Regions from separate parts of the Homo sapiens genome. Here region 1 is linked to region 2. The links come from fine-mapping of genetic effects on gene expression. A gene starts in region 2. The other region holds a variant in brackets. All regions are shown on one strand. Distances are from middle to middle.

Region 1 (9,380 bases), 280 kb before region 2:
CCTCCCAGGACCACCTGTTAGAGAGGTAGTCACAGGCCTGTAGAACAGAGAGGGTTAAGTAGAACAGTGAAGGAATGGACCCATGACCTTGGTTCTTTTTTGTTCTTTTTTTAAATACGCCTTTATTTTGGAGACAGGTCTCACTCTGTCACCTAGGCTGAAGTGCAGTAGCAAGATCATAGTTCACTGTAGCCTCAACCTCTTGGGCTTGAGCCATCCTCTCACTTTAGCCTCCTGAGTAGCTGGCACTACAGGCACGTGCCACCATGCCTGGCTAATTTTTGTATTTTTTGTAGAGATGGGTTTTGCCATGTTGCCCAGAGGCTGATCTTAAACTCCTGGGATCAAATGATCCTCCTGCCTCAGCCTCCCAAAGTGCTAGGTAACAGGTGTGAACCATCACAACCGTCCATGATCTTGGTTCTAATAGCCATAGATAAAAGACCACAATTTTTTTCAAGTTCTTTTTTTTTCTTTTTGAGACAGCGTCTCACTCCATCACCTAGGCTGGAGTGCAGTGGTATGATCAAAGCTCACCACAGCCTCAAATTCCAGCCTCAAGCAATCTTCCCACCTTAGCCTTCCGAGTAGCTAGGGCTATAGGCATGCATCACCATGCCTGGCTAATTTATTTATTTTTATTCTGTGGACATGAGCATGGCGGGTGGTCTCATCATGTTGCCCAGGCTGGTCTTGAATTCCTGGCCTTAAGTGATCTTTCCATCTCGGCCTCCCAAGGAGCTGGGATTACAGGCGTGAGGCACTGCACTCAGCCTAAAAAAGGCATTTCCATTCCTGCCTTCATCTACATTTTGAATGGGCAAAGTCCAAGCTGATGCATAGAAAGAACTTTCCAAATCTTCAAGCCCTTATGGCTTGAAGATCGCTGTAGTCATAAACAGCACAATAAATACGAAAGGTGAATTAACAGTCAGTGTTTAATTTCTCTGATATAGCACTTTAGGGCACTAATATAATTAAATCTCTAATTAAGTCAACTAAATAATTGTATAAGTGCAGTATCACCTGAAATAAATTAAGTCCAAATCCCCTGCTAGGGGATCCAATTAAAGATATTAACAAAGAGAGAAGAGGATACAAAGTACTTAAAATTAAGTGCATTATTATTTAACATTTATTAAACACCTTTTGAATGATACATGTTGCTCTTACATAAAAGACCCTCTTGAGAAAATCACTGTATGTCTCTGAAAACTATGTAGTTCAAAAGTTCTAAAAGTTCTTTTAAAATATTAAAGAGAAGGCCCCGGCATGGGTTCTGAGTAGTCTTAGGAGAAGTGGAGGCAGCAGCCACTTCTGCCCAAGGAAACTAGAGAAAGACTTTAAGACTTAGGAGAGGCCAGGAATGGTGGCTCACACCTGTAATCCTAGCACTTTGGGAGGCTGAGGCAGGAGAATCACTTGAACCTGGGAGGCAGAGGTTGCAGTGAGCTGACATTGCGCCATTGCACTTGAGTCAAGGCAACAAGAGTGAAACTCCGTCTCAAAATACATAAATAAATAATAATTTTAAAAAAGAGGACAAAGGAGCATTCTGAAACACAGACCAGTGAATTTATGGAGAATTTATGGCAAAACTTCAAAAAGGGTTGTTAAACAGATGGTTTGTGGGCTCTAGAAAAAAAGGCAATGGTGGTGGCAGCCCCAGGATAAGTGGGTCACAATAAGCAAGTCATAATAAAACACACACACACACATTCTTTTTTTTTTTCTTCTTCTTTTTTTTTTAAAATGTGGCCACTTGGCTGGTAGCTTCAGAAATAGGATAGAGTGGCTGGGCACGGCAGCTCACGCTTGAAATCCCAGCACTTTGGGAGGCCGAGGCAGGCAGATCACGAGGTCAGGAGTTCGAGACCAGCCTGGCCAACATGGTGAAACCCCTTCCCTACTAAAAATACAAAAATTAGCTGGGTGTGGTGGCGTGCACCTGTTGTCCCAGCTACTGGGGAGGCTGAGGCGGGAGAATCGCTTGAACCCAGGAGGCGGAAGTTGCAGTGACCTGAGATTGTGCCACTGCACTCCAACCTGGCAACAGAGCGAGACTCTGTCTCAAAAAAAAAAAAAAAAGATAGAGTAACTTTGGATTTTTGAAGTTTAGTCCTTCATGAATAAGGCAGAGAAACAGGGTACAGGTCACAGTATGGTAAGATAGATTTGAACATGTAAAATAATTATTCCTAGGAAATGTTTAGTAGTGGATTTATATTGAACAGGAAAACAGGCCAGGCGCGGTGGCTCACAGCTGTAATCCCAGCATTTTGGGAGGCCGAGGCGGGCGGATCACCTGAGGTCACGAGATTGAGACCATCCTCGCCAACATGGTGAAACCCTGTCTCTACTAAAAATACAAAAATTAGTTGGGCGTGGTGGTGCACACCTGTAGTCCCAGCTACTCGGGAGGCTGAGGCAGGAGAATTGCTTCAACCTGGGAAGCAGAGGTTGCAGTGAGCCGAGATCGCGCCACTGCACTCCAGCCTGGTGATGGAATGAGACTCTGTCTCAAAAAAAAAAAAAAAAAAAAAAAAACGCTTAGAACAGGAAAGCAGTCTCTAGTGTCATGCTACCAGAACTTAATGCTTGGTTTCTTCTTCTTATCACGTTTCTATGCATTACTTGAATGAAGATGAAGAAGAAATGCATATTAAATTTTAATTTTCAGATGTCACACAGCCAAGAGAGATAGGTAACACATGGATAGTATCAAAATTTTAACGGTATTGACATGTTGAACAAAAGACTGATAGTAGCCAGTAAAATCTAACAGGGATAATTATATAGTTGTATATTTAGGTTTCAAAAATTAATTGTAAAAGTATAAGCTGCAATTTGGCAGTGACTCATGAAAAATGTTGAGAATCTTTAATAACCACAGTCTTGGTATCAGCCAAGGCTGTGATGTAGGTACAAAAAAATGCAAATGCAAACTTTGGCAGCATCAGCAGGTGTACATGTCCAAAACACAGGCAGGAATGGTCTCACAGCACACGGACGGTCAACTAATGTTTAGAAAACTATTTTCAGTCCTGGGGGCCATGAGTCAAGAGGGGCACTGGCATGATAGATTGGGTCCAGTATTAGGATGAAGAAGGATTTGGAAACATGTCACCTAGGGAATGTTTAACCTGGAGGAAGGGAGGATATAAAAGCCATCTTCAAATATCTGAAGTAATTAAATGGAAGAAGGAACAGTCCTGTTCTATGTGCTTCAGGGGACAGAACAAACAGCAACAAGGTAAAGTTTCTCGGAAGAAGATTCCACTTATAAATAAGAAAAGAACCTTCAAATGACTAGAGTTGTCTAACAACAGAATGATTATTTTTGACAAGCTGTGGGTTCCCTATTATTGGAAGCCTTCAGTGACTGGATGACCACATGTAGGAGAAAATATGACTGAAACTCTTCGCCAGTGTGAAAGATAGGACGACGCTGCCTCTAAAGGTCTACCCAAGCCCAAGATTCTAGCTGATAGTGCTTAACTGAAAGGTCTTGACAGCTTCTGAGTGGCAAGACTTGGTACAAAAGGAAAAGCTACAGTTTTCTAATACAATAAACTGTGAAATGCATTGCAAACAACATAAAAGCATTCCTTTTTACTCAGAGTTAGAAATTATTTGCAAGAGTCTATAGGAAAAAAAATTCACCGATCTTAATTAAACATCTTAATCTGACAAAACTAGAAAGAGACAAAGAGAATTTTAAATAGATTTCTCAATCATATGAGATTCACATGCAAAAATACAGTAAGAATAGTAGTGTTTCCCAATATTAGAAAAGCAATAATAATAACAGCAATGACAATAAAGACAATCTCATATATAGTACTTACTGTGTGCCCAGCACTGTTCTAAGATCTCTCTCTTGGCCAGGTGTGGTGGTTCACGCCAGGAATCCCAGCACTTTGGGAGGCCAAGGTGGGTGGATCATGACGTCAGGAGTTCAAGACCAGCCTGGCCAACATGGTGAAACCTGTTTCTACTAAAAATACAAAAATTAGCCAGGCATGCTGGCACACGCCTGTAATCCCAGCTACTCGGGAGGCTGAGGCAGGAGAATTGCTTGAACCTGGGAGGTGGAGGTTGCAGTGAGCTGAGATGGTGCCATTGCACTCCAGCCTGGGCGACAGAGTGAGACTCCATCTCAGGAAAAAAAAAAAAAAAGATCTCTCTCTCTCTCGCTCTATCTGTATCTATACCTATATCTATCTTCTACCCTCACAACAGCCCTACGAGGTAGATGCTACTATTATTTTCATTTTACAAAGGAACAAATTTAGGTAAGAGCAAGTTGTCCAAAGTAACACAGATGATAAGTGCTGGAGTCAAGATGAGTTCTTGTTCTTAACCAATATGCTATAGTCCCTTTCTTTCACTCTTAAACAAACCAGAAAGCATTACAATTTCATTTGAGAACATAACACATACCTATATCGCTAATGTCCTTTGCATGCCTATGTACAAGGACAGATTTTTTAAAAGATACATATCACAGATTAGAAAAAAAATACCTCCAGTCAAATAGCTTATGATAAAGCCATATTTATAGAGATTGCAGAAAATTGAAGCCATTATTTAATTATGTACCTCTACTGCAACACATATATATTTTCCACCAACCTAAAAATGCCATATGGTTGTAGAACAAATGTCAGTAGAAATTGGAGGTAGAAATTTTCCACATTTTCTGCTAAGAAAAAGGTCATGCATATCTCAATTGATTAAGTATATTCTTCTGGTCATACTTTTTTGTTGTTGTTGTTAAACCTAAAGGCACTGAGCAAGACAGGTATTATCTCATCCGCCACTGAGTCACAAAACAAAACTAGTATATTTTTACTTAAATCCTTAACTAACCAAAACTTATTTTTATTAAAATTATCAACCAAAGGCACT[C/G]ACTGCAGTAGTGGTATTTGTGGTTTCATGCAGTGACAATACCAAATATTGCCCCAGGTTATTTTCACTGCTTTTATTTATTTATTTATTTATTTATTGAGATAGAGTCTCATTCTGTCTCCCAGGCTGGAATGCAATGGCACAATCTCAGCTCACTGCAAACTCCACCTCTCGGGTTCAAGTGATTCTTCTGCCTCAGCCTCCCCAGTAGCTGGGATTATAGGTAAGCGCCACCACACTCAGCTAATTTTTGTATTTTTAGTAGAGACGGGGTTTCACCATGTTGGCCAGGCTGATCTCAAACTCCCGACCTCAGGTGATCTGCCGGCCTCAGTCTTCCAAAGTACTGGGATTACAGGTTGAGCCCCTGCGCCCGGCCAAAACATGTCTATTTTTGAAAAATGAATTCCCAAATCATATTGACTATTTAAAATGTATTCTATTCCCCCTTAACACACACACACACATACACACACACACACACACACACACACACAAATATAAAAGCATGTTTAGTATAGTTTTTCTTGCCCTGTCCTCCACGTTTATCAATTTTACTGTTTTCTAATTTAAAACTGTATGGCTATTATGCTTAGTCTGGATGGTATGCAGCCTCCTGTTGGGAGTGAGACTTCAGAACTTATTTCAAGGCTCAACCTCTCTGCTAAGTACGTTTGTGAGTTCACGCTGTGGCCTGCCATCCACAAAGAGCTGAACACAACGCAACAGCTCATTTCGTACAAATTATCATAACTGAACAGATATAACCATACTACTGTATATGTATAAATACTCCTAAACCATATGGTAGGGATACATTTATATGATATAAAATATATCTACATCATATAAACATGTTTATATGGTTTAGAGGTATTTATATATAGTTTAAATAATTTTACTGGTACACTTAAAATTGACCTAATTGTTGACAGAATGGCAGAGAAGAACTGAGACAAAGTAGTGCTTGCTATGTCAAGGAGTGAAGGTCAATTTGGATGACAGAGTGAGACCCTGTCTCAAAAAAAAACCAAAAAAACCTGCATTTCAGGGTATGAGCAGACATGCCTGCTCTCAAAATGTAATTAAATGAGACAAAATGGACGAAGTAATTCTTTTTTTTTTTTCTATTTTCTTTACATGTATCTGCTGAAACACGTAATGTAATTCTTTTTTTTTTTTTTTTTGGGAGACAGGGTCTCACTCTCACTCAGGCTGGAGTGCAGTGTTGCAATCTTGGCTCACTGCAACCTCTGCCTCTCGGGTTCAAGTGATTCTTGTGCCTCAGCCTCCCGAGTAGCTGAGATTACAGGCATGTGCCACTGTGCCTGGCTAATTTTTGTATTTTTAGTAGAGACGGGGTTTTGCCATGTTGGTCAGGCTGGTCTCAAACTCAAACTCCTGATCCCAGGTGATCCGCCCGCCTTGGCTTCCCAAATTGCTGGGATTACAGGCGTGAGCCACCATGCGCAGCCTGTAATTCTTAATTTATAAACTTGCATCAACATTTGATAGGTTTGGCATTTGAGGTTAGTAATATAGAATTATATTACATTTAGGATTAATTTCACAGGAAAAGCAATCACTGCCTCTTGGTTGTCATGTCTTCCAAAGGAATATTTGGTGATTTATAAATAATCATGGATTTATCCATATTCTGATTCAAAGTTAATTTTTAATTTTAGTATCATATTCCAAAGAGAAACTTAATTCTACACATTGAAATTCAAAAGCAAAACTGGGACTGTAAAGCTTTTTAGCAAACTCTGTAATAGAAATTCAACAAGCAAAACATGTCATAGGCTGTAGACTGCAGCAATGAGCCACTCTTGCCTGTAGCTTTTTTAGGAGTGAATCAATAAATAGTAAGCTCTGTAATCTCATGACAAATACTAAGCTGGTTATTTAATTAAAAAGAATACTGTGGGATGAGAGCATTCACATCATGTAGGAATCAAATAGTCCTGGGGGTATTTGAGGAATATATAAACTATGTTAAGAGTGAGTTTCGGTTTCTGTTATTTTACTTGAATCCCTATCTTACTTATACATTTCTTATATCCTTCTCATGTTCCAATTTTCATGTGCTTTAGTATTTGGATGCTGATACCTAGGGACCACTTGCCCCAAACTACCACTATCATCATCCATGTGATCCTAGATTCCTAGCATCCTAAAATACATCCTGATATAAGATGAGTTTAAAACACATTTATAATTTCACAAGAAAGCACCTCAAACGACAGAGAAATTCTATCTACATTTATTAATGAAATAAATGTAGGCTTCAGCCACGTCTTCTAGGTAGGTTGCATCAGTGTGGGGGCCAATGTATGAGGTGAAGAATGTATATTTACTCTGTGCCATGTAAGTGTAATCATATCTGCAAGATTAACAGCTCTTCCAAATGTAGGAGGTCTCTACGCTATGGTGTTATGGAAGGTGTATTTGTTAACTTAGATTGTGCCTCTTTCAAGAGAATGATGATCAGAGTTTGTTTTAAATGGTTATTATCTATAAAACTTTCTTTTCAAAAGTGAAGCATGCTTATCAGCTTAAAGTCACAATAATTATTACACTGGTTCAGCAAACATAAATCCTAGCACAGTCATTTATTAGACAATCACATTTCTGAGACCAGAATTATGTTAGATTATAGACTAATACACACCGTTTTCTGGATGCTTGCAAGATCAGAGCCTGAATACAACAACAACTTTTTGTAGTATGTCTAAAGCACTTTGAGAAGCAGGATGGTGGTAAAGAATACACACTGCTGCTGGGCGAAGTGGCTCACATCTGTAATCCCAGCACTTTGGGAGGCTGAGGTGGGCGGATCACTTGAGGACAGGAGTTCGAGGCCAGCCTGGCCAACATAGTGAAACCCTGTCTCTTAAAAAAAACAAATAACAAAAGAGAATACACATTGTGAAGTCAGCAGACCTGAGTAGAATCTTGACCCTGTGAGATAATTGTGTGGACACTGTTAGGTTATTTGAGCTCTTCTCTATAAAAAGAGGGGATTCACAGAATTCGATAGAACCATTTGATTAAGGTGTTTAGTGTGTGTCTTAAACAGTGTACGCTGCAAAGCACGCATACAATGGCATGCATCTTAAAGAAAGTACAGCACATAGAAAGGTCTACCCATTTTTCTGACAGCTGCACACAAATCTTAGGAATCAATTAAAGATACAGGTTAGCATAATCTTCTTAGATCCAGGATAGGGAGATCTTCCACAGGGGGCACCATTGCGCTACACACTAATCAATCTTCAGAGGTACAGCTTTGGTTTTATTATGATTTAGTTAAGATCCTTCTTCTTCTTTTTTTTTTTAGATGGAGTTTCACATTGTTGCCCAGGCTGGAGTGCAGTGGTGTGATCTCAGCTCACTGCTGCCTCTGCCTCCCGGGTTCAAGCGATTCTCCTGCCTCTGCCTCCTGAATAGCTGGGATTATAGGTGCCCGCCATTACGCCTAGCTAATTATTGTATTTTTAGTAGAGACGGGGTTTCACCATGTTGGTCAGGCTGGTCTCAAACTCCTGGCCTCGTGATTCGCCCGCCTCGGCCTTCTTACAGGAGTGAGCCACAGCATCCGGCCTTAGCTAAGATCTTTCATCAAGCCAGAATGTCAAGGACTCGGGGGAAAAGGACAGAATCTACTCACCTACAATCTTTAGTAACATTTCACACTTCACTGAGCTATGCTGCAGGTCCCATGATCTCTACTGTTACCTAAGTAATTCTGTTTGAAAACTGAGGGACATAGCCACCTTGTTATTTCAGGAAAGATGGTTAAGTACATTATCAGGGATCAATACTCTGATGTGGTAAGTGGGGAGGCTGAGTAGTGCTTGGAGACACTGCATAGGAAATATAGAGGAATGGCTTCAGATGTACCAACTGAATCAACTACAGCTTTCTGATGGCTCAAACAGCTTCAAATCACAAAAATTCTTAATTCAACACAAAATCCGACAGCAGGATTAGTGTATGACTGTGGAAATATGAATCTAGGTAACGATATCTTCTAACTTACTAAAACTACGTTCAGTATCTATACAGAGGTGCCTCTCTTTTCACTCAAAAACCATAATTTTGGGAAACCCATGCCTCTCCACTATATTTTATGACAAGGAAAGAGATAGTGTTCCCTTCAGATCCACTTTAAAACAGTTTTAATGGACTAAACAGGCTTTTCTATAGGGACAGAGGGCTCTATCTTCGACATAAAGACATACAGGCTCTCCTGGTGCACAGGTGGCTTCTGACACCACAAACTGGGAGCAATAATTGAATCCAGCTATCCCACAGTGCAGAGCATCCACCCGCAGAGCCAGCCTGAAGGGCATTTCTAGTTAGCTTTCCAGATAAGACTCAAAAGATTACCCCAATTGAATCTCTCTGCCTCAACCCAGGGGGTGAGAGGCATTGAGGATGTAATCATTTGATTAAAAATATACTTG
Region 2 (9,380 bases):
CCAGGATGGAGCACAGTGGCACGACCACAGCTTACTGCAGCCTCGACCTCCTGGGCTTAAGGTATCCTCTCAGCTCAGCCTCCCATGTAGCTAAGACTGCAGGCATGCACCAGCAACCCGGATAATTTTTGGTATTTTTTGTAGAGATGGGGTTTCACCATGTTGCCCAGGTTGGTCTCAAACTCCTGAGCTCAAGCAATCTGCCTACCTTGGCCTCCCAAAGTTCTGGGATTGCAGGTGTGAACCACCACACCTGGTCTAGACTTCTTTATATCACTTCATAAGTTTCAATAAACATTTAATTAATTATTTATCTAATTATAGTTTACAACAGAGAGATCCTAGAAAATCTAGATGAACAAGAGTAACAATGAGCTAAATGCTCCTCTATTCCTAGTAACAGAATCATTATCTCACCAAACCTCAAGATTTTTAACCTCATTTCTCATTTAGTGTTAAAGAATATATGTCACATCTAGGCTGTTTTTCCCTTTTCTTGACAAGATGTCTTAGGTAAAGAGATCAGTGAATAGCAAATTATGGTGGTTTCCTTTTTTTTTTTCCTGCTGTTTGCTAACAAAGTCACCATTCACGTAAACTTTAGGGCTATTAGACATGATTCACCCCTAACATACCATGTAGCTTTATTCGAAAAGTAAATGGCTCCAGCCTGGGCAACAGAGCAAGACTCTGCCTCAAAAAAATAAAAATAAAAAAACAAAAAAAATACAGCTGCTTAATCCTTGATTTTAGTTATAATTTACAATAATCATTACCTGCTTAACCTCTGGATCAAATGCCTGCTCCTTTGCTGAAATAACTGTGTACAGTGTATATACAAATATATACAGATACATATCCACACCCCAAAAGTTTCTTCATTGGCTGTCTATGAGTTTAGGCTGTTTAAATAATTTGCAACACATTATTGTAGTAAATAGAATAAAATTATATGCAGATTAGCTCTTTCTTTTCTTACAAAATACAGCAACACATACATGCTAGGACAACTTTGCAAAAACTTACTTATTCTGTGCCTTTCCAGTTCTGTCACTGTACTATAGTACTACAAGGCAGGTTAGGCAACAATTAGGAAAGTTTCAGAACCATTAGTCTCACAAACTTTCATCTAGGATGCCTCTGGTGGCCTCTGAAGAGATCTTCTCCAAACCCTCATCTGATGCTATTGCAACTAAGTAGACGAACTACGGTTCTCAGAATATACACATTAATAAGGCTCTTTTTAGCTTCACCCTTTTCACTTCTGTGCTTTATGATGGACTACAATACTCATAATGCAATACTACAGCCCCTATCATTGACACTATCATTTCCATCAAACACAAAGAAACCTCCTTCTGGATTACCAAAAACTAAGAAATCTGGGCCAGGCGCAGTGGCTCATGCCTGTAATTCCAATACGTTGGGAGGCGGAGGTGGGCAGATCATGAGGGCAGGAGCTAGAGACCATCGTGGCCAACATGGTGAAACCCCTTCTCTACTAAAAATACAAAAATTAGCTGGGCGTGGTGGCACATGCCTGCAATCCCAGTTACTGGGGAGGCTGAGGCAGGAGAATTGCTTGAACCAGGGTGTCAGAGGTTGCAGTGAGCCGAGATCAGGCCACTGGGCACTCCAGCCTGGCGATAGAGCGAGACTCTGTCTCAAAAAAAAAAAAAAAAAAAAAAAAAAAAACTTAAGAAATCTCTTAGTTCTAGTGTTATGAGAACTAGGAGTAACCTGAACTCAGAAGTTGTTTATGAGAGTATAAACTGGTACATTCACTTTAGAAAGCATTCTAAAGATAAACATGTGCACATCCAACAATTACGCTCTTGTTTTTATATCCTCGTGACATGAACACCAAAAGATATGCAAACATATTTATAACAGCATTTTTCATAATATTAACAAATGCAACAACCCAAATGTTAATTACAAGATGACTGTGAGGCCCGGCGTGGTGGCTCACGCCTATAATCCCGGCACTTTGGGAGGCTGAGGTGGGCAGATCACGAGGTCAGGAGTTCAAGACTAGCCTGGCCAATATGGTGAAACCCTGTCCCTACTAAAAATACAAAAATTAGCCAGGCATGGTGGCGGGCGCCTATAATCCCAGGTACTTGGGGGGCTGAGGCAGGAGAATTACTTGAACCCGGGAGGTGGAAGCTGCAGTGAGCCGAGACTGTGCCACTGCACTCCAGCCTGGGCAACAAGAGTGAAACTCTGTCTGAAAATAAATAAACAAACAAAAGATGACTATGGTATATTCACACAACAGAATTTCACACACAGTAAAAACCTAATGAACTACAGTTAAACACACAACATGGATGAATCTCAGAAACCATGAATTTTAAAAAGGAAGTCACATAAGGTCATATGCAATAAACTATCATATTTGTACATTGCAAAGAAACCAGTAAAATGAAACATTATTATTTAGAAAAATAACAATGTAATTTTACTTATTTCATTTTATTTTGAGACAGGGTCTCTTGCCCAGACAGGTGTGCAGTGGCACAATCACGGCTCACAACAGCCTTGACCTCCCAGCTCAAGCAATCGCAATCCTCCCAAGCAGCTGGGACTACAGATGTGCATCCCCACGCCCAACTAATTTATTTTATTTTTTGTAGAGATAGGGTTTTGCTATGTTGCCCAGGCTGGTCTCGAACTCCTGGGCTCAAGCAATCTTTCTACTTTGCCTCCCAAAGTGCTGGGATCACAGACATGAGACACCACACCAGGACCCCTGGTAATTTTGAAAAGGAAAAGTGTTTAAAAACAGTTTAGTGGGAGTCAGGGAGATGGACTGAGGAGTACACATTTAGCTTCAACAGGACTGGTAAAGTTACAATTCTTAAGTTGGGTAATAGTAGGCTTATTCGTTTCATTAAGCTTTAAACATATGTGTATGTGTTTTGAGTGTGTATCATCTAGAATCTCTGGAAAACTAACATTCCAGCTAATCATAAGGTGACATTCCTGATAACTGGGAACGATGCCAAGGAATAAAATCACTTTATTATTACTATTTGATAACTTTTGTAGTAAGAAAATGACAGGTGCCTCGAAAAATTAAAGCAAGGGGTGGGTAAGGGAAGTGAGTGTGGCTAAAAAAGCAACATGAGGAATCCTTATAGTGCTGAATATGTTCTTTATCTTAACTGTATCAACATAAATACCCTGCTTATGATATTACACCATCGTTTCAAAAGATGTTACCATTGGGAGAAACAGGGTTAGGTGTATATTAGATTTGTGTTATTTCTTCCAACTGCATGTAAATCTAAAACTACTTCAAAATAGAAGTTTACTTTTAAAAACAACAATAGAAAAAGGTCCTTTTAGTCCTGGATTTCTCCACCTTGGCACTACTGACATTTTGCAGCACCTAATTATTTCTTGTGGGTCTGTCCTGGGAATTGAAGGGTAGCATCCCTGGCCTCTATCCACTAAATGCCAGTAATGTGCCTCCATTCGTGACAACCAAAAATGTCTCCATACATGCCAAATGTCCTCAGGGGGGGAAAATTGCCCCAGTTGAGAACCAGTGCTCTAGTCATAAAAGCCAAGAAGAGATATGAAAATGTTCCTAATTGAAGAAGATGAAAGAGATATAACAACTAAACGCAATACTTGATCCTGGACTGAATCCTGTCCTGGAGGGTAAAGAATGCTATAAAGAACATTATTAGGCCAATTAACAAAATTGAAATTAAATGGTAGATTAAATAAAAGTATTGTATCAATATTAAATATACCTAAGTTGGTAACTGTAGCGTACTTACGTAGGAGATTACTGCTATGCTTAGGAAATACATACTGAAGTATTTAGGGGAAAAGGATCGTGATGTATGCAATCTACCATCAAATGATTCAGAAAAAAATATATAGAAAGATATATACACGTGAATAGTATATATATCTGTGTGTATATGTATTTAATGTATATATTGACATATATAGACATATCTACGTAGCAGGTGGATCTGATTAAAGAGTATGCAAGTGTGTTCTTTGAACTATATTATTTTTGTAACTTCGCTGTATGTTTAAACTAATTACAATTCAGGTGTGGGGTTTAAGTGGAAGAAAAAAAAAAAACTTTTGGCCGGGCACGGTGGCTCACGCCTGTAATCCCAGCACTTTGGGAGGCCGAGGCGGGTGGATCACGAGGTCAGGAGATTGAGACGATCCTGGCTAACACGGTGAAACCCCGTATCTACTAAAAATACAAAAACAAAATTAGCCGGACGTGGTGGCGGGCACCTGTAGTCCCAGCTACTCCCGCCTGGGCGACAAAGCGAGACTCCGTCTCAAAAAAAAAAAAAAAAAAAACTTTTATAAATCCTAAAGGCAGGTTTCACAGCAGTAGTACAGCATAAGTGATAAACATCCCAAGAAGATAATGACTACTAACGGGATAAATTCCTACTTCAACCCCAAGACATTCGTTGGAAAGAATTATCTACCTTCAGCCTCTCTCTCTCTCCTTGCCTACTTTCTGGAGGTGACCCCCTGAACAGTGCGGGACAGAAAATTAATCTATCCCATTAAAAAAAAAAAAAATTTCTAGGAAGTGACTCAATAAACCTACATCTCCGCTCGATTTCTCCACAAATCACTGAGGCATCTTCATCCTCAACAATTAAGAAGCAAAATCGAGGAAAGCATACAAGTGTTTCAAAGAAAACCACTTATGCACTCAGCTGAGCAAGAACGTTAAGTGGACTAGAGAAGAGACAACACGGAATGTCTAGGAGGAGTGAGTAAAAAGGAAGGACTAAAAAGAGATAAATCAGGAGCCAGTCTGAGAGAGCTAGAATGCGTATGCCCGCCAGAAAAAAAAGTATTCCAATGAGTGCGAGTGTGTCAGCGGGAGAGGGGTAGCTCACCTGGCTGTGGTAAGCAGAGGGTGCTGAGTGCCCACCAGCTTCCGCACCTGCATAGCGATGTTGCTGAGCTCGTCGCTCAGCAGGCAGCGAAGGCTCATGAAGGACGTGGGGTACCCCACGATCTTCTCCGCCTCTGACACTACCTGATTCCAGTGGGCCGGGGACTTGGAGGACCGACCACGCCAAGAGCCCACCGAGGAGATGGTGTCGAGGGACGGGGACCACCACAGGCGACGCGGGGAACCCGAGGCTCCAAGATAACGTGGCAAGTGCAACAGCAGCTGCCGAAAGTTCATGGTTTGAGTCTGGAAGGGTCTGGGACCTGGGGGTATCCAGAAGTGCCGCGGGAAACAAACCAGGGGCAGAGGAGGAACTTACAGTAACTAAAAGGAAGCGGCAATTCTTGACCCTCAGAGTAAGGTGGCTTCCTGGAGCAGTGACCAGAAACGAACTTTAACTGCTGCTTTCTGCAGCCCAGGCTGGGCAAACAACAGTCCCAGCTCAGCACTGCCCCCGGCCACCCGGGGTAGAAACCACAGCCACTGCCTATGTGGAGGACGCCATATTGGAGGCATGGAATGCGGCCTGCCGTAAAGACAGAGGCGGGTTGTTAAGTATACTCTCTACTTTACGGCGTACCCGAGAACGCCCCCGCAGGGGCGGTGCTTTGGAGGTGAACCCGGGTTGGGAGGTTCAGCTCCTCCCACCCCGCCGCTCTGGGCCAGCAAAGGTCGTCAGTGACAGGGATCAGTTGTGGGCGGCGAGTGGTCCCTCTGCACACGGTATCTGGGCCGAGTCTGGATTCATTAGAGTCCCCGGCGCCCAGCACTGAGTGGCATGCATAAGTATTGGTGTCACGAACAACGGTCAGCCCCCGGCTTGCCCGCAAGGAAGGGCGTCGGGCGGAGGCACCAGTTCCTCCCGGAAGCTTTTTGTCGCTATCGCCACCAGCCCCTGGCAGTGGCAGTGGCCGTGGCCGGGCGTGAAGGCGGCCTCTCGGGCTGCATGCCTCCTGGAGCTGGGGCCACGTCTCAGTGGTGGAACGCCTAGTCGGGGCGTGGGGCTGAGCCCTCGTGTCCTCAGGGCCCAACCAGACATAAGGCAGCGTGGTGCGGCGGAAAGGGGTCCCAAGGAAAGTCCTCGGATCCAACTTCGAATTACCGGCCTCCTCGCTGAGCCTTGGGAGAAACAGCGGTGCCTCCTTCCCGCGGGTGCGGAGAGGAAGAATGAAACGTTGCCTACTCCCTGCCTCTTATCTTCCTCTTTATGCCTAGCCTGGAGCTCAACTCCAGGATTGAAGACTATCGCTGACCGGAGTGCTTTTCACGTACTAGTTCATGTATTACTTTATTTAATCCTCAGAACAACCTCATTAAGTAGATAATATTAGTATTCTCCGTGTTTTGTATGAGGAAACTAAGGTGCAGTCGAGTCGCGTAAGTTCCCTAAGACCACACTAGACAGGGATGTGAGCCCAGACAATCTGGTTTCAGAATCCGTATTCTAACCGAAAGATTACACCGTCTAAATAATAGGCTCCCATCCACTCTTTTCTCCTTATTGCTGAGAGGAAACAGTCAATATGATTATCTTTTAAGTAATGCTACCTATTTTTTTTTCAAATGTGCCTAAGATCTTACCTCCTTTCTTATCACCTAAAACAGGTGTTAACCGTTCTTAATAAAGGATATATTATCCATTTTTTACACTCTTAAAAATAGCTTATAAAACTCTCTAAAACTTTCAAAATCCTTCCAAATTCATGGTATTTTATTTTTATTTTTTATTTATTTTTTGAGATGGGTCTTGCTCTGTCACCCAAGCTGGAGTACAGCGGCGCGATTTCAGCTCACTGCAACCTCCGCCTCCCAGTTTCAAGCAATTCTTGTGCCTCAGCCTCCCAAGTGGCTGGGACTACAGGCGCCTGCCACCACGCCCGGCTAACTTTTGTATTTTTAGTAGAGACTGGGTTTCACCATGTTGACCAGGCTGGTCTCAAACTCCTGACCTCGAGTGATCCGCCCACTTCGGCTTCCCAAAGTGCTGGGATTACAGGTGTGAGCTACCAGCTACCATGCCCAGCCTGTCAGTATTTTTTAAATGAGCATCATGCATAATACTGTACCAGCCTCTTGAGCTACAAATAAAGATTGGGACTTAAAGAGTAGTTGTTCACTTTGCAAAACAAGATGATTTTCTCTACAAAAGATTTAGCTTCATACTCTCCCTTTGGCAAGTTTTCCTTGTGATTTAAATTTTTTATTTACAAAAATTCAGTTTAGGTGTAACTTTTCAGGGGCACATTTTATTTAACATGAATTGTGATTATAAGTATCAAACACAGTCTATGCCCTTAAAGTAAGTAAGCTGAAGTTTGAAAATAATTCCTGTGAAAGAGATAAACTCTTGGCAACAAAATTCAGGTCTGTTAGGAGATGAAAATAAATATGGAGAGTGAGATACTTTACCATTCCAGGAGATGAAAATAAATATGGAGAGTGAGATACTTTACCATTCCAAAAAGTTCCAAGGCCAGAGCTTCTGGGTTATCCAAGGTGAAAGAAGTCATGAAAATACAAAGATAGATAGAGACTAATGTGATATATTGTGCACCTGAGGCTGTTTCTTCAGCCTCATGGTACCTTAAGGGTAACTTTTCACGCAATTTCCTCAATAGCAATTCACAGCATGTACTTTAATTTCTCCACAGAAGCCAAGTGCATTATTCTCTGGTCATACTCTATTAACCAAGTTTTTGATTATTCATGGGACTTTGGGTCCCATTTACTTTAAATAATCAGCATTTTCCTTTATACTTACAGTTAAAAGGTTGCATTATACTTAATGATAATCAGTTTTTAGAAGGTTAAAATGGTATTTGTTCTTTAATCTCCCAGATAAATATATAATTCCTTAGAGTCTTTATGATTAAAGAAATTTCTGAATTGCTAGTGACTTTTGGAGAAACAGGGAGGGGGAGTATCTGTGATTCTGCCCTTCCTCTGCCACTGATAATAGTTATATTAAAGATGTCTGTGAATGTGTGCATAAAGAAAGAATACAGCAGGATTTCTCAGCCTTGGCATTTTTGGCGTTTTGGACCAGATAATTCTTTGTTGGGGGAAGGGGGGCAGTCCTGAGTATTGTACGGTGTTGAGTAGCATTCCTGACCTCTACGTACTAGATGTTAAGCAGCACCCCTTTCCAAGTTGTGACAACGAGGTATGTCTCCAAACATTACCAAATGTCTGTCACCCTGGAGTGCAAAATTGCCCACTGGGAAATGGGAGATGCTGAAAGAAAAAAACAGTGTCCATCCATGACATTTACTCCTACAAAGCAGCAAAAAAGAAGTCCTGGGTGTGAGTAGCCCTGCAGGTTAGAGAGTGGTCACTCCACAACCTATGGAAACTTTCAGCCACACTCAGGGACTTCCCCTTGGCATCGGAGTTGTTTTGGAGACAGCACGCTGACAAAAAATGATCACAGTTCCTCCTCTACCTTTTTCAGGATTCTGAAGCTTATACCAGTAGAACTCACTGGGCACTCTGCATTCTACTGACCTTAGAAAGAAGTAAGGTCATATTTGATGTCCTTTTCTTTGGCTGGAAACCCGAGCCAGCCTTGGAAAATACAAGCTCTTAACAAGGATAGTGCTGTGGGCGCTGGCATTTCCATGATTAGGTGAGTGGAAATAGATAGAGATATTGCAGCCACCCTCCTTATGTCACCCTCAATACAATCACCTATTGTTTATCCTGAGAGAGTTCTTCCAAAGGCAGATGAAAGCGTCGTGGTGTATCTTGGGCAAAGATGATAAAAGGAGGCAAAAATCCAAAAGTTTGACCACCTACTTGGTTAGCAGGCTATGGAGATGCCACATAGTGCCATTGAGAATGCAAAATGGTACATGGCAGCTATGGAAGGGAATTTGATAATCCTCAGCAAAATTACATATATATTGCCCTTTGCCCTAGAAACCCAATTCTAGGAAAATATCCCAAATAATGACTTAAGCACAAGGTTATTCATTGCAGTATTATTTGTAATAGCAAAAGATTGGAAACAATCCAGATAACCCCAAATAAGAGATTGGTTGAACAAACTCGAGTAGATCTACACAATGAAACTATGCAACTGTGAAAAAGAACGAGGGCCATTTCTTTACACTGAGGTGAAATGATCTCCGAATATATATTAGTGTAAAAAAAAAAAAAAACCAAAGTGCAGAACAGTATATGTGCTTTTTTTTTGTAAGATAGCTAAACTACAAATGAGTATTTGCATATATTTGGAATAGGAGGAAACAGGTGGAGGAGACAGGCGTGGAAGCTAGACTACTCTGAATAAGCCTTGGCTATATGGTTTTGATTTTAGAATCATGTATATGTTTTACATTTTCAAAATAATTTCAAATCCGAAAGAAAAATGCAATTCCTAAAATTTGAAAACAAATAATCTAACTGTATATTAAGTTGG

Evidence for each region.
Region 1: its variant is fine-mapped to the expression of PDSS2 in whole blood (INTERVAL, PIP above 0.99).

What each region holds. Positions count from the first base shown.
Region 1 is chr6:107,171,051-107,180,430 of GRCh38, forward strand. All of the region lies in intron 7 of PDSS2 (decaprenyl diphosphate synthase subunit 2), which reads right to left. Among named protein-coding and RNA genes, the nearest start is that of BEND3, 60 kb to the left of the region's middle. The variant C/G (reference allele first, on the strand shown) is at 4,912.
Region 2 is chr6:107,454,089-107,463,468 of GRCh38, forward strand. PDSS2 (decaprenyl diphosphate synthase subunit 2) reads right to left here and starts at 5,476. Exons shown (of 8, transcript NM_020381.4): 1 at 4,902-5,476. The coding sequence starts at 5,197. RefSeq lists enhancers at 5,347-5,796, 5,517-6,438.